Linked DNA regions of Homo sapiens: regions 2 and 3 are each reported to be linked to region 1. Evidence: microRNA targets listed by miRTarBase, many of them from high-throughput screens and not tested one by one. Region 1 holds a microRNA gene; each other region holds the end of a gene's coding sequence.

Region 1 (4,152 bases):
AGGCAAAACTTTCTGTCTTCAAAAAGCTGATATGCTATTGGTACAAATATACAAGAAGTAATAACTGAATAGAATGTTAACTATGTGTTATAGCTTTAAGTACTATAGAGAAACAATAAAACGAATTGAGGTTTGGGCAGTACGGCAGAGAGGAAGAGGTGTGCAATTTCAAATGAGGTGGTCAGAGAAGACTACTCTAGGAAAGCACTATGGAGCAAAGTTTTGTATTAAGTTAAGGAGTCGAACCAATCTCTAATCTCTCAATGCTTCTAAGACAGTCCTTCTTCCCTGGCAGTGAAAGGGAATCTCAGTTTTTCCTGTCTATCTTTTTTGATGTCCATACCCATCTGCAGCCCACTACAGTTGCATCCTGTTCCAAGGGATTTTATGTCACAAATTCAGGGGACTGTTGAGGCACTTTGGTTTTAGAGGTGAAAAGGAAAGAACAACATACAGACAAAGACTCTGTCAAGCTGTGTAGCATAATCCCAAGGCAGTGGAATATGAGGTGAAGAGAATAAGAAGACAGTGGGTGTTGCCATGATGTTTTAGGTGGAGGGGGTTTTCTCTCCCTGGGAAGTTTCCAAAAAATGCCAGTAAGAAATTGAAGATATTTTAATGTATTCTTTTGCCAGCACTGAATATCCTTGACCACGAGGAAAACGGATCAGAGACTGAAACATGAGTTTCTTGTCTTAAAAAGTTGCAGCTGCCTGTTAAACTGATTGTGGCTGTGCACAGGTATGTCTGAAAGAATGAATCTAAATTCTTATCCTCTATCAGCCTAAAGCCAGCACATGGCTATGATGACTGATGTATGTGCTTCTGCATGTTTACTGGATGGAATAGAGAATGGCCCAGCACAAGACAACATGGTGGTAAGAGAAGAGAGAAGGGTGAATTGGACAGGCAGATTACAGTCAAGCTCTCCGATAACAAAACTTATCAGTGTCCACAGGAGATTGGGGCTTCCTCTACTATAACCTATTTTCTCTCCCTTGAGAAATGGAGGGGAAGGTGGTGTTTCTTCACTTTTGGCAAGCTTCACAGAGAAAATAGAGGCGAAAAGTGGCCAGTGGGCCTTAAGGCATTCAGTTAAGATGAGGAATGTGGGGGTTAATAATGCTGAGAAGAGTTGACATCTTCTTAGAAATACTAGTACTTTTTGGAAAGATGCTGGGCTTCCTGAAGCTATAAATATAGGCTTCGTATTTTTCAAATAAAAGAAGGAAGATTTCAAGATGTTCAGGCATTGAGATGATTTCCTTTAGTATTCATTGTTGTTTCAATAAAAACTTATAAACTAGGGATGATGTTTCTCAAACTTTCCCACTTCCATATTTAAAAATACTTTCAGCCTGTAGCTGCTAAGTTCTAAAACAAACTCCAATTTAAGGCTGTGAATCTTTTTACTTGACTTTCCTTCTAACCCCTTAATGCCAATTACATATATACGTGTAAGTAACATGTAAATACATATGCATATACATAATATAGATGCAATTACATATATATGTAATTAACATGCATATACATAATACAGCTGCTTTTTAGTGCACACTTGTGTGAGTTTAGATGAATGTGAAATTTGTATAACAATAAAAATTCAATTTTTAAGAAGCCTACAAGATGTGCTGGAGTTAAAACTTCTTTCAGTCCCTGGACTCTAGAAATATTTGTTCTTCTGTAATTTGTTGTACCAGGTTCAGTAGTCCTAGGGAAATGCAGACACCAAATAGCATGTGTGTTGGATAACAAAATGCAAAAACATGCTCTAAACAACCTTGCTCCAGGAATAGACTAAGAAAATTTCTAAGTTGCGAGTTATATGAGGGCATCTCTAGACCACAAGCTCATATCTGTCTTATAGATCACTTCCAGTAAGTAAAATGGGCTTCTTTTTACTCCAGAGTCTAAGAAAGAAAATAAATTTCTATTATCTCCACCACAGCAATCACAGATTATTTTCCTTCTTTTTGCTTTCAGGATCTTGTGTGTTTTCACCACTTACTTTGTGGTTCCAGAGTAGAGGTAAGTAACTTAGGTAAAGGGCCTCAGATCTTTTAAGACTGGAGTTAAGCATTTTCTGCTTAACTGTTGGATCTGAGGACTGCATACTGCTGATTCATTGCAAGAAAAGCATGCAAGAATATTTCTTTCATGAGCAAGAGAACCTAGACAAAAAGTTCTGAAAACTGCCATGTAAAACCCATGACACATGAGGGGATAGCACTCAAGAGGGATGAATGAAGAAAGACAAGCGGAGTGGGTATTGCATAGGTTATTTGGACAACTGTCAGCGTCTACTCACAGCCTGAAAGCATTGAGAAGTTGTTTCAAAAGTGCACAAATGGGTGCTTAGGGAGGGCTTCCATCCTTAAACATGTTGTCTGTGGTACCCTACTCTGGAGAGTGACAATCATGTATAACTAAATTTGATTGACACTTCTGTGAGTAGAGTAACGCATGACACTTACGACAGACAATGGCACTGTGGGTGCATTGAGGGTGTTTTATTGTACACAGAGGGAAGCTTTCTCTAAAGTGCAGGTATAACACCTCTTCAAACCCCTAGTGCTGGCCTCCCTCAAGGGAAGCCTCTTAAGTGCCTTTCAGAGGCCACTGATTTGTTCAACAGGAAATCATCAAGCACATCATACTGTATATCAGTGCTGCAAATACAGTAGTGTAAAGGGAGAGGCAAAACTTTCTGTCTTCAAAAAGCTGATATGCTATTGGTACAAATATACAAGAAGTAATAACTGAATAGAATGTTAACTATGTGTTATAGCTTTAAGTACTATAGAGAAACAATAAAACGAATTGAGGTTTGGGCAGTATGGCAGAGAGGAAGAGGTGTGCAATTTCAAATGAGGTGGTCAGAGAAGACTACTCTAGGAAAGCACTATGGAGCAAAGTTTTGTATTAAGTTAAGGAGTCGAACCAATCTCTAATCTCTCAATGCTTCTAAGACAGTCCTTCTTCCCTGGCAGTGAAAGGGAATCTCAGTTTTTCCTGTCTATCTTTTTTGATGTCCATACCCATCTGCAGCCCACTACAGTTGCATCCTGTTCCAAGGGATTTTATGTCACAAATTCAGGGGACTGTTGAGGCACTTTGGTTTTAGAGGTGAAAAGGAAAGAACAACATACAGACAAAGACTCTGTCAAGCTGTGTAGTATAATCCCAAGGCAGTGGAATATGAGGTGAAGAGAAAAAGAAGACAGTGACTGTTGCCATGATGTTTTAGGTGGAGGGGGTTTTCTCTCCCTGGGAGGTTTCCAAAAAGTGCCAGTAAGAAATTGAAGATATTTTAATGTATTCTTTTGCCAGCACTGAATATCCTTGACCACAAGGAAAACGGATCAGAGACTGGAACATGAGTTTCTTGTCTTAAAATGTTGCAGCTGCCTGTTAAACTGATTGTGACTGTGCACAGGTATGTCTGAAAGAATGAATCTAAATTCTTATCCTCTATCAGCCTAAAGCCAGCACATGGCTATGATGACTGATGTATGTGCTTCTGCATGTTTACTGGATGGAATAGAGAATGGCCCAGCACAAGACAACATGGTGGCAAGAGAAGAGAGAAGGGTGAATTGGACAGGCAGATTACAGTCAAGCTCTCTGATAACAAAACTTGTCAGTGTCCACAGGAGATTGGGGCTTCCTCTACTATAACCTTTTTTCTCTCCCTTGAGAAATGGAGGGGAAGGTGGTGTTTCTTTCTTTTTGGTAAGCTTCACAGAGAAAATAGAGGCAAAAAGTGGCCAGTGGGCCTTAAGGCATTCAGCTAAGATGAGGAATATGGGGGTTAATAATGCTGAGAAGAGTTGACATCTTCTTAGAAATACTAGTACTTTTTGGAAAGATGCTGGGCTTCCTGCAGCTATAAATATAGGCTTCGTATTTTTCATATTAAAGAAGGAAGATTTCAAGATGTTCAGGCATTGAGATGATTTCCTTTAGTATTCATTGTTGTTTCAATAAAAACTTATAAACTAGGGTTGATGTTTCTCAAACTTTCCCACTTCCATATTTAAAAATACTTTCAGCCTGTAGCTGCTAAGTTCTAAAAGAAACTCCAATTTAAGGCTGTGAATCTTTTTACTTGAATTTCCTTCTAACCCCTTAATGCCAATTACATATATA
Region 2 (4,000 bases), not on the chromosome of region 1:
CAACACCAGGGAGCTTGTGGGGGAAGGGCAAGCAGAAATGTCACAAAGCTTTCTTGCCATTTTAAAGTTGCCTGTTCTTGACTCAGCATTTGCTTCATTGCTATAAACTTTTTACTGTTTTTCAGAGTTCTGATAAAATTGGCTATGCCTGTTCCTGCTTTAAAAAATATATATATATTTTTTAGGGATTGGGGTCTCACTATACTGACCAGGCTGGTCTTGAACTTCTGGCCTCAAGCCATCCTCTCATTTCAGCTTCCCAAAGTGCTGCAATTACACGCGTGAACCACCACACCCAGCCCCTGCTTGTTTTTCAATGTGCCTACTCCACCATGTTGCTCAAGTATGTATATTTTCTAAACTACCTTGTAGTGTTGTGATGGGAAATAAATCCCTGAGCCTTTTGAATAACTCAGAGAGATCAAAAACTTAGTTTATCCTATTCGAAGGATTAGAAAAATGATATATCTTTCACTTTTTCAGGGATAGGCTCCTCATTAGAAGGCTCCTATGTGCCGATGCTGTACAAGACATTTCATTTCTCTTAATGTTTACAACAAGCTTGTTGCCAAGGCTGATCTTGAACTCCTGGCCTCAAACGATCCTCCCAGCTCAGTCTCACAAAGTGTTGGGATGTCTGGCCAACTAATGACTATCTTAACTCTTGTGTTTCAATGTTTATGCCTTCTTTTATCTTGACTGATTGTATGACTATGTCTTCTAGAACAATGTTGAACAGAAATGGTGAGAGCAGACATCCTTGCTTTAATATTTCACCATTATATATGATGTTAGGTATAGATTTTTCTCACAGATGCCTTTTATCAGATTGAGGAATTTATATTCCTACTTTGCCGAAAGGTTTTTGTAGTATGAGGGGGTGCTGAATTTTGTCAAACACTTTTTCGGTAATAATTGAGATGATTGGTTCTGCAGTCATCGAGATGTGGATTTTCTCCTTTATTCTGTTCGTGAGTGATTACACTGGTTGACTAATGTTAAAACAACCTTACTTTCCAGGAATAAACCCTATTATCTTTTTTATACATTGCTGGATTTGATTTGCTAATTATTTTAAGGACTTTTATTTCTACATTCATGATAGATACTGCTGGTATTTTCTCATGATGTCTTTTGCAGGATTTGTATCATATATGGCATTTCTGAGGTATACCTAAGTATCATTTATTCAAGGACCTAAGAAATGGAAAAATCAATTGAGGTGATTTTTCCATCATGAAAAAAATTTCTTTAAAGTCATCTGTCTGATTCTGTAAAAATTTCACATTCTTTATGTGAACAAAAAGCTGAAAGAAATTCAGGGAAAGAATTAAGATGTGATATCAATTGCCAACCCAATGTTTTGTTCTTGCTAGTTGTGTTCCCCCTCCTTATTCCATCCATTTCATAGTAATAAGAAAAAAAAGAATTTTACATTGAGATTTAGGTAAATTTTTGAATTACAGTATATGATAAAAACCTTAACGTTCAAACTCCAGGTATAATGAAATTTAATTGAAAATTACTATAGCAGTTTAAGTCAATTTGTAGTTTTGAAAGCAGTTTTAATATTTTATCTTCCACAAAAAGGTAGGAAAGTTTCTGTGCTGAACTTAAATATATAAAGGAACACGTCCAACATATTTAGTTAAAAATCCAAAAGTCAGAGGATAATTTCCAAATGTGTACTTAAATAGAAAAAAATTACAAATTTCATGTGCAATAAAGTGTCTGCCACTTACGTAAAAAAAAAAAAAAAACCCAAAACTATGTACACATAGAAACACGTAACATTTTTGTAAATAGAGAAAAGGTCTAAAAGGATAACATTAAAATGAAAACAGCAGTTATCTCTGGGGACAGCGGTTGTGTGGAAATGCTAACTGCTTTTCAACAATAGTTTGCATTTTCTAGATGAGATTCTATCCTTGTATAATTTTGTTACTAATATAAACATCAAAAAATTCTTCATACCAGTGAATCACAAGTCCTCACTGCAACAGACATAACAAATCCAACTCCTAAAATAAATTATATGTAGTTTTGAAGGTAGAGGTGACATAAAAGTAGGCTGTATATTCAAATCCTACAATATATTCAATTTTTTCCAATTATCTTTTGAACAACAATTTGCAAAATATATTTACAGTTTCCCTTAAGTTATTTAATAAGTAGACTTAGAAAAATTACTAGTAAACTAACATTTTTGGAAAATTTTCTTAATTTCTTTTGATTAAATTATCTTGCCTCTGTTTTATTAGACAAATATTTTATCAGAAAATGAATCACATGTTGTGAGTATTTAAAATATCTGTTTCCTTCTTAGTCCTACCACCAATGACAAAAAAACAAAATAGTAACTTGCTAATAAGTAATGACTTAATGCTTCAAAAAACATCAACAAATTTAAAAGAAAGGCCAAACATGGTTGCTCAAGCCTGTAATCCCAGCACTTTGGGAGGTCAAGGTGGGTAGACTGCTTGAGCTCAAGAGTTCGAGACCAGCCTGGGCAATGTCACGAAACCCCATCTCTACAAAAAATTACAAAAATCAGCTGGGCATGGTGGCGCATGCCTATAGTCCCAGCTACTTGGGAGGTTGAAGTGGGAGGATTGCTTGAGCCCAGAAGGCAGAGGTTGCAGTGAGCCGAGATTGTGCCACTACTCTCCAGCCTGGGTGACAGAGCCAGACCCTGTCTCAAAAAATACAATTAAAAAAAAAATAAAAGAAAAATGGCAAATAAGGAAAACTTCTGCCACAAGCATGGGCAAAAAATCAATATCTTTAAAAATATAAAGGTCTTAAAGTCCATAAGAAAAAGATGGATATTTCAGAAATAATTACAAATGGCCAAAACCAATATGTTTACTCTCTAATAGCCAACACAAAATACGCTATTAAAATAAGATTTTTACCTTTCAAATTTTCAATGCATTTTTAAAAAGGATAATAACTACTGCTGGTAGGGATTCATTGGCACTCACTTATGCTTATGTTGGTACATTAAATTGGTACAGATTTCTGAAGGATAATTTGACAATCGGCACATGCCTTAATCATTTAATACTTAGCAAATAATTCACTCCAACTGAGATTTTCATATTGACTTATTTTTAAATAAAGGTAGTTAAAGAGAACTAAAAGATATTATTGTGGTTCAGGACAGAAGACTTAGTAGCATGCTCACTTAAGCTAAAACCTTTAGCAAGGTTTCTCCAGTTCCCCTCTTAAGAAAATTGAAAGACCAGCCAAAAGAATCAAAGGGAAACACGTTGAGCTCTTAAAGCTCCAGTGCATTTAATTCCTTAGAACACCACAGAATCATGGCAGCTTTTCATGATGCCAGAAGGTAAAGCACGGGGGAATACAGAGGTGGAGTCCTGCTTTTTTTCAAATCCTACCTTCTATTACAGGGAATAAAGAAGAGAGAGGCACCAGCTTCTTCTCAAACAAAGGAACTGAGTGTAACTATATTAAAATTTTAGCATTTTCCAATAAAGTTTATTCAATCTTCTTTAATTAGTGATTTAAGATGGTCTAGGTGATGCTCTCCTATGAAGGATTCTGCTTGATTCAAAGCTTTTATTTTCACCAAAATAAGAATTATTTCTTCGACTTCATCCCTGAAAAACAAAACAAATTTCTCCCTTTAAAAATGCAATGTATGAGGGAACAGCGGTCAATTCAGAACCTGATCATCAGTTGTTAATCTAAAACAAAAGCTTTACCTTAAGCCAATATCTAAAGTAGCATAAAACACAGAGAGATGCTGCCATCTCCACTTAATTATAAAGTTCAAATACAGATCATTAGTGGATGTATTCTGGCAAATTTCAATGTGAATTACTGTAAAAGGTAGAAAAGCATATAGTAAGTCTATCAGAAATTTCAGTAGTGCTGCGTTGCTATTAGCTTGTATGAGACATTGTGGTGGAAGCAATGGTGGGAGTATATTCACACATCATGACATTAGCAAATAATACAAATCTGATTTTTTTTT
Region 3 (4,000 bases), not on the chromosome of region 1:
ACCAAATGCAGAGACAACCTCATTGTGATGCTTTTAATTACAAAAGATGTAAAATGATGCATTATAAAACTTGGAAGCAACTTTATACAAATTCCAATTTTTAAATATGGTTGAACAGGGTGCCCTGGGGGTTAGGACACTGGCAGGAAGTCTGATTAGTTGCTGGGATGGTCCCATCCATGAAGCACTGGACACATGCTGGGAACCATCTGTGCATAAATCAGAAGAGCCAACAAGAGTGGGAACAGGAAAGGTCTGCAAATACGCATATGGACTTGAAGATACAACACCAGCTCAGGTAATATACAGCAGGCGGAGGAGAAATGAAACAGGAGAAACAGGACAAAGGAGAATTCATGACATGATCAAGAAACCCCTTCTCCTAACCCCCTATGTCCTAAAACCCACAACCATACAGAAAGAAAAAATGGAAATGCAGACAGGTTTTTAGTTCTATGCTGTTTAACTGCTGTAAGTGAGAGTAGTACAATGGTCGATTTCTTGTGACAAAACTAAATAATGAAAAATAGTTTACTCTGAAGTATGCAGCTGCTTCAAATGCTGAGGACCACAACTGGTTTTGTTACAAAGGCCGCAGTGAGTGCAGGCTCACGTGCTGTGGGCCAGGGCGACCCTGCCCGTGGTGAGTCCTCCACACCTTCTAGGCAGAGTGGGTTGTACGATGCCCAAAACCTTTCACAAGAAAAGATCGGACTCACTCATAGACCTAAGGACAAATTGAATTCAGTGCTAAACCATATTGCCCCCAGTGTACACCCCCAATAAATCACTTCCCCGGAGGTCTGTTTTCACAAGTCACCTGGAGAACGCCTTTGGGGCAGTAGGGTTCACTGTGTAGGTCTTGGGGTCTCTGTTGCCAGGCAGGGTGGCTGCTGTGCAGACAAACTGAACTGGGACCCGGATATGACGATACCCATGGGTAAGGCACTATGTGAAGAGTGACTATGCTGAGACCTCTGTTTTATAAAAACACAATTCTTGAAACATCAGCACCATCGCCTGTTGAGAGTGAGATCAGGTTTGGAAGCCCTTTGACACAGGAGCTGGTTTCTTTTGGCACATGGGGTGCTGGGTAGCATTGCGACTGAAGGCTCTTTAACAAAAAGCCACCCCCTCTGAGATCTTGAGCACAAAGGGATCTGAAAGTGTAACTGGGAACAGGGCAGGCCAGCAGGCCCTTCCTGAGCTGGAAATCAGGCGAGGAGGACTCTGGTTTGATTTCCCAATTCCACAGCAAAGATTTGGGGCAAATGTGAAACAGGAATACTTGGATTCCAGAGGAAGGTGGAGGGGCACCCCATGAGGGTTATTTTAAAGATGAGAGGCAAGGTCAGAAGATAGAAATGGAATGAGGTCGGGAGAGGCTAACCAGCCCAGGGTCTTGTGACCACGACTCCTTTTACATAAGGGACAGGTGTGCCAGATTCAGACCCTCATTGTACAGCCTTGCTCCTCTGGGTGGAACAGTCCAGCAACCCTCAGTACACTCCAGGGTCTCCTGGAAGGGCAATGGCTGTCCAAGCAAAGGTCCTGGCATCTTCCGTCTCTCCTTCAGGGTTCTCCTCCTCTCCACCCTGTCCTCTCACAGCCTAGACCCCCCCCTCCCCCTGCAGTGCTCTGCCCCCTTCAAACCTACTGGCATCACCCAAGTTAGAGGAGGCAGGCGGTGGTGGAAATCTGGCCCATCTATTTTATGAGAAGGTATTGATGACTAATGATGCTTCCATGAATTAGGCCTTCGTTTTACTATAAACTATTTTTTCAACCTCAAAGAATGAATCTCTACTTGAAGCAATTTAGAGCCAAACGTGGATCTGAGAAGGAAGATCTTCCTGGGTGGGGCCCAGCCAGGATGCTCAGGGCACTCACCTGCTCAGCCCTTCCGGATGTACTCAGAAGACAGCTCCCACCCACCCGCGTGGAGCACAGCCCAAGGAGAATGCAGTGCCCGGCTTCACTGTGATTTGGTCACCTAGTGTTAAAAGCATATTAAAGTGCATGCTTCACCATAGGCACGAGTGCTAGAAAAGCTAAAGCTCTGAGAAGATCTGGCAGGGAAGGGGATAGCTACAGGTGAGCCTGCCTTACGGCATGGCGGACGCACTCATTCATCATGCGCTGCACGCACGGTTCTGCAGCACTCACTCCAGCACACGACTGTGCTGCCACGCACGTGTTAGGTGCTACGGGTTCAACAATGATAAGGCACTGTCCCTGCCCTCAAGGAGCTTACGGTCTAGGGGGGTGACATTAGACTCCCAGCCCACAGAGACACAGCTCTGGGGAGGGATGGGGAAGCTCAGTTGCTCGGTGGGTGGGGTTAGGGCCTCACCAGCTCCCTCTGGCTGCTCTTAGTGGGGAGGTCTGTGCTTGTCTGGAGTTTGTCTGGAGGCCACTGAGTATGAGACACCTGCAGTCCCTGTCTTCCTTCCCCAGCCCCCGAGGAGGAGCACAGTTCTCTTCAGGCTCATCAGTGCCAGGGGACTCTTTTCAGTGACTGATAAAATGGTCTTCCTCTTCCTCTGGTCCATAAGGAAAAGGTGTACTTTTCTGAAGCAGCAGAAACCAGCTGGGAGAAAATGAAAATTAGCCTTCAGTCTGCCTAACTCAAGCCTGCCCTCGGGCTTGTGGTAAAAACTTCATGTCGTAATCCAGGCGTGGGAGAGAGCCGTGGGGTCCACTCAGCCTGGGAATGTCCCCCGCTGGAGGGCCTCGCCCTCTGGGTCAGGTCAGAGCAGGCATCGAGGTGCCCTCTCCGGTGCCGCCGCCCCAGGCCGAGCCTCCCACTCCGGGCCCGCCTTCGGTGCGGACGGAGATCAGTGGTTCTGAGCACACTACACAATGCTACGGAGGCCTCCAGTGACACAGTATTTCCTACTCTTACACATCGGCTGACTGGATGGCCAGTAAAAAGATGCAGTGGAGGTGAGCTTTCCAGTTCATGGGAAGCTCCAAGCAGCCTGCCTGCTGCAACACGACTTTGGCCACAGGCGGGAGAGGCAGTACAAAGCTGTGTGATCTGGAGGAAGCCACAGTGTCTGAGATGGGATCTCATCTGAAACCCTGGAGCCGTGGCATTGCTTCCTTCTATGTCAAGATAACGAAAGCCCGTGGTATCAGCTGGCTTCATTCTATTCCATTCTATTTTGGCTGTTGCAGAAAAACATTCTTCTGTTCCACTGCCTTCTGTTCACAGTCTGTCAGCTCGAAACGTCTCTTCAACAGAGGGGTCCAGCAGGCCCATGCTGGAGTCACTTAACATGTTGAGTCCGTCCAGGCTCAGGGGTTCAATCTGCAGCTCCTCTTCCAGTGGAAATGGAGTGTCCACGTTCAGGCTGACCTCAGGCAGGCCTGCCAGCGCACTGTTGAGGTCTTTGAACAGGCTGGTGCTGGAGTCTTCTGAAAGGAGTGGCCAGAGGGGAAAACAGTGCGGTTAGGAGGCGCGAAGGCTCCAGGCTACTAAGCAAACCCAGCTGATGACAGTCCCCTAAACTGCTATCCCACACATCCTGACCACCCCCAGGCCCACAGTTCTTGCCCTGGAATCTACATTCTTGTCAGTCAGTTGCACAACTCCCAATTTTTGCAGGTTTTTTCCTTTTGAACAGTCATCAGTCACCTAAGATGAAATCTTTTTTTTTTTTTGGAGACTGTTGCCCAGGCTGGAGTACAGTGGCACAATCTCGGCTCACTGCAAGCTCCACCTCCTGGGTTGGTGCCATTCTGCCTCAGCCTCCCGAGTAGCTGAGACCACAGGCGCCCGCCGCCATGCCCAGCTAATTTTTTTTGTATTTTTTAGTAGAGACGGGGTTTCGCTGTGTTAGCCAGAATGGTCTCGATCTCCTGACCTGATGATCCGCCCACCTCGGCCTCCCAAAGTGCTGGGATTACAGGCGTGAGCCACCGCACTGGGCCAGATGAAATCTTTCAGAAAAGGCTTTGACTACCAGGCCCACCGCCCTGTGTCACGGTCTCTGAG

Evidence for each region. The annotated mature microRNA hsa-miR-514a-3p reads AUUGACACUUCUGUGAGUAGA and lies in region 1 at 2,439-2,459, shown strand. An mRNA with a match to its seed (bases 2 to 7 or 8) in the 3' UTR can be bound and repressed. Matches are read on the target gene's strand: a 7mer-m8 pairs with bases 2 to 8, a 7mer-A1 pairs with bases 2 to 7 and ends in A, and an 8mer does both.
Region 2: the mRNA of GCFC2 is a reported target of hsa-miR-514a-3p. Seed matches in the 3' UTR shown: 7mer-A1 at 3,033-3,039.
Region 3: the mRNA of CRTC3 is a reported target of hsa-miR-514a-3p. Seed matches in the 3' UTR shown: 8mer at 1,052-1,059.

Annotation. Positions count from the first base shown.
Region 1 is chrX:147,280,264-147,284,415 of GRCh38, reverse strand. MIR514A2 (microRNA 514a-2) reads left to right here and starts at 2,386; the gene lies at 2,386-2,473. LOC101928863 (a long non-coding RNA gene) reads left to right here. Exons shown (of 4, transcript XR_001755997.2): 3 at 636-741; 4 at 1,987-2,031.
Region 2 is chr2:75,661,161-75,665,160 of GRCh38, forward strand. GCFC2 (GC-rich sequence DNA-binding factor 2) reads right to left here. Exons shown (of 17, transcript NM_003203.5): 17 at 1,545-3,623. The coding sequence ends at 3,506. It overlaps MRPL19 (mitochondrial ribosomal protein L19), which reads left to right. Exons shown (of 6, transcript NM_014763.4): 6 at 1-1,046. Among named protein-coding and RNA genes, the nearest start is that of MRPL19, 16 kb to the left of the region's middle.
Region 3 is chr15:90,641,352-90,645,351 of GRCh38, reverse strand. It overlaps CRTC3 (CREB regulated transcription coactivator 3), which reads right to left. Exons shown (of 15, transcript NM_022769.5): 15 at 7-3,420. The coding sequence ends at 3,212. All of the region lies in intron 2 of CRTC3-AS1 (CRTC3 antisense RNA 1), which reads left to right. Among named protein-coding and RNA genes, the nearest start is that of LINC01585, 17 kb to the left of the region's middle. RefSeq lists an enhancer at 3,429-4,000.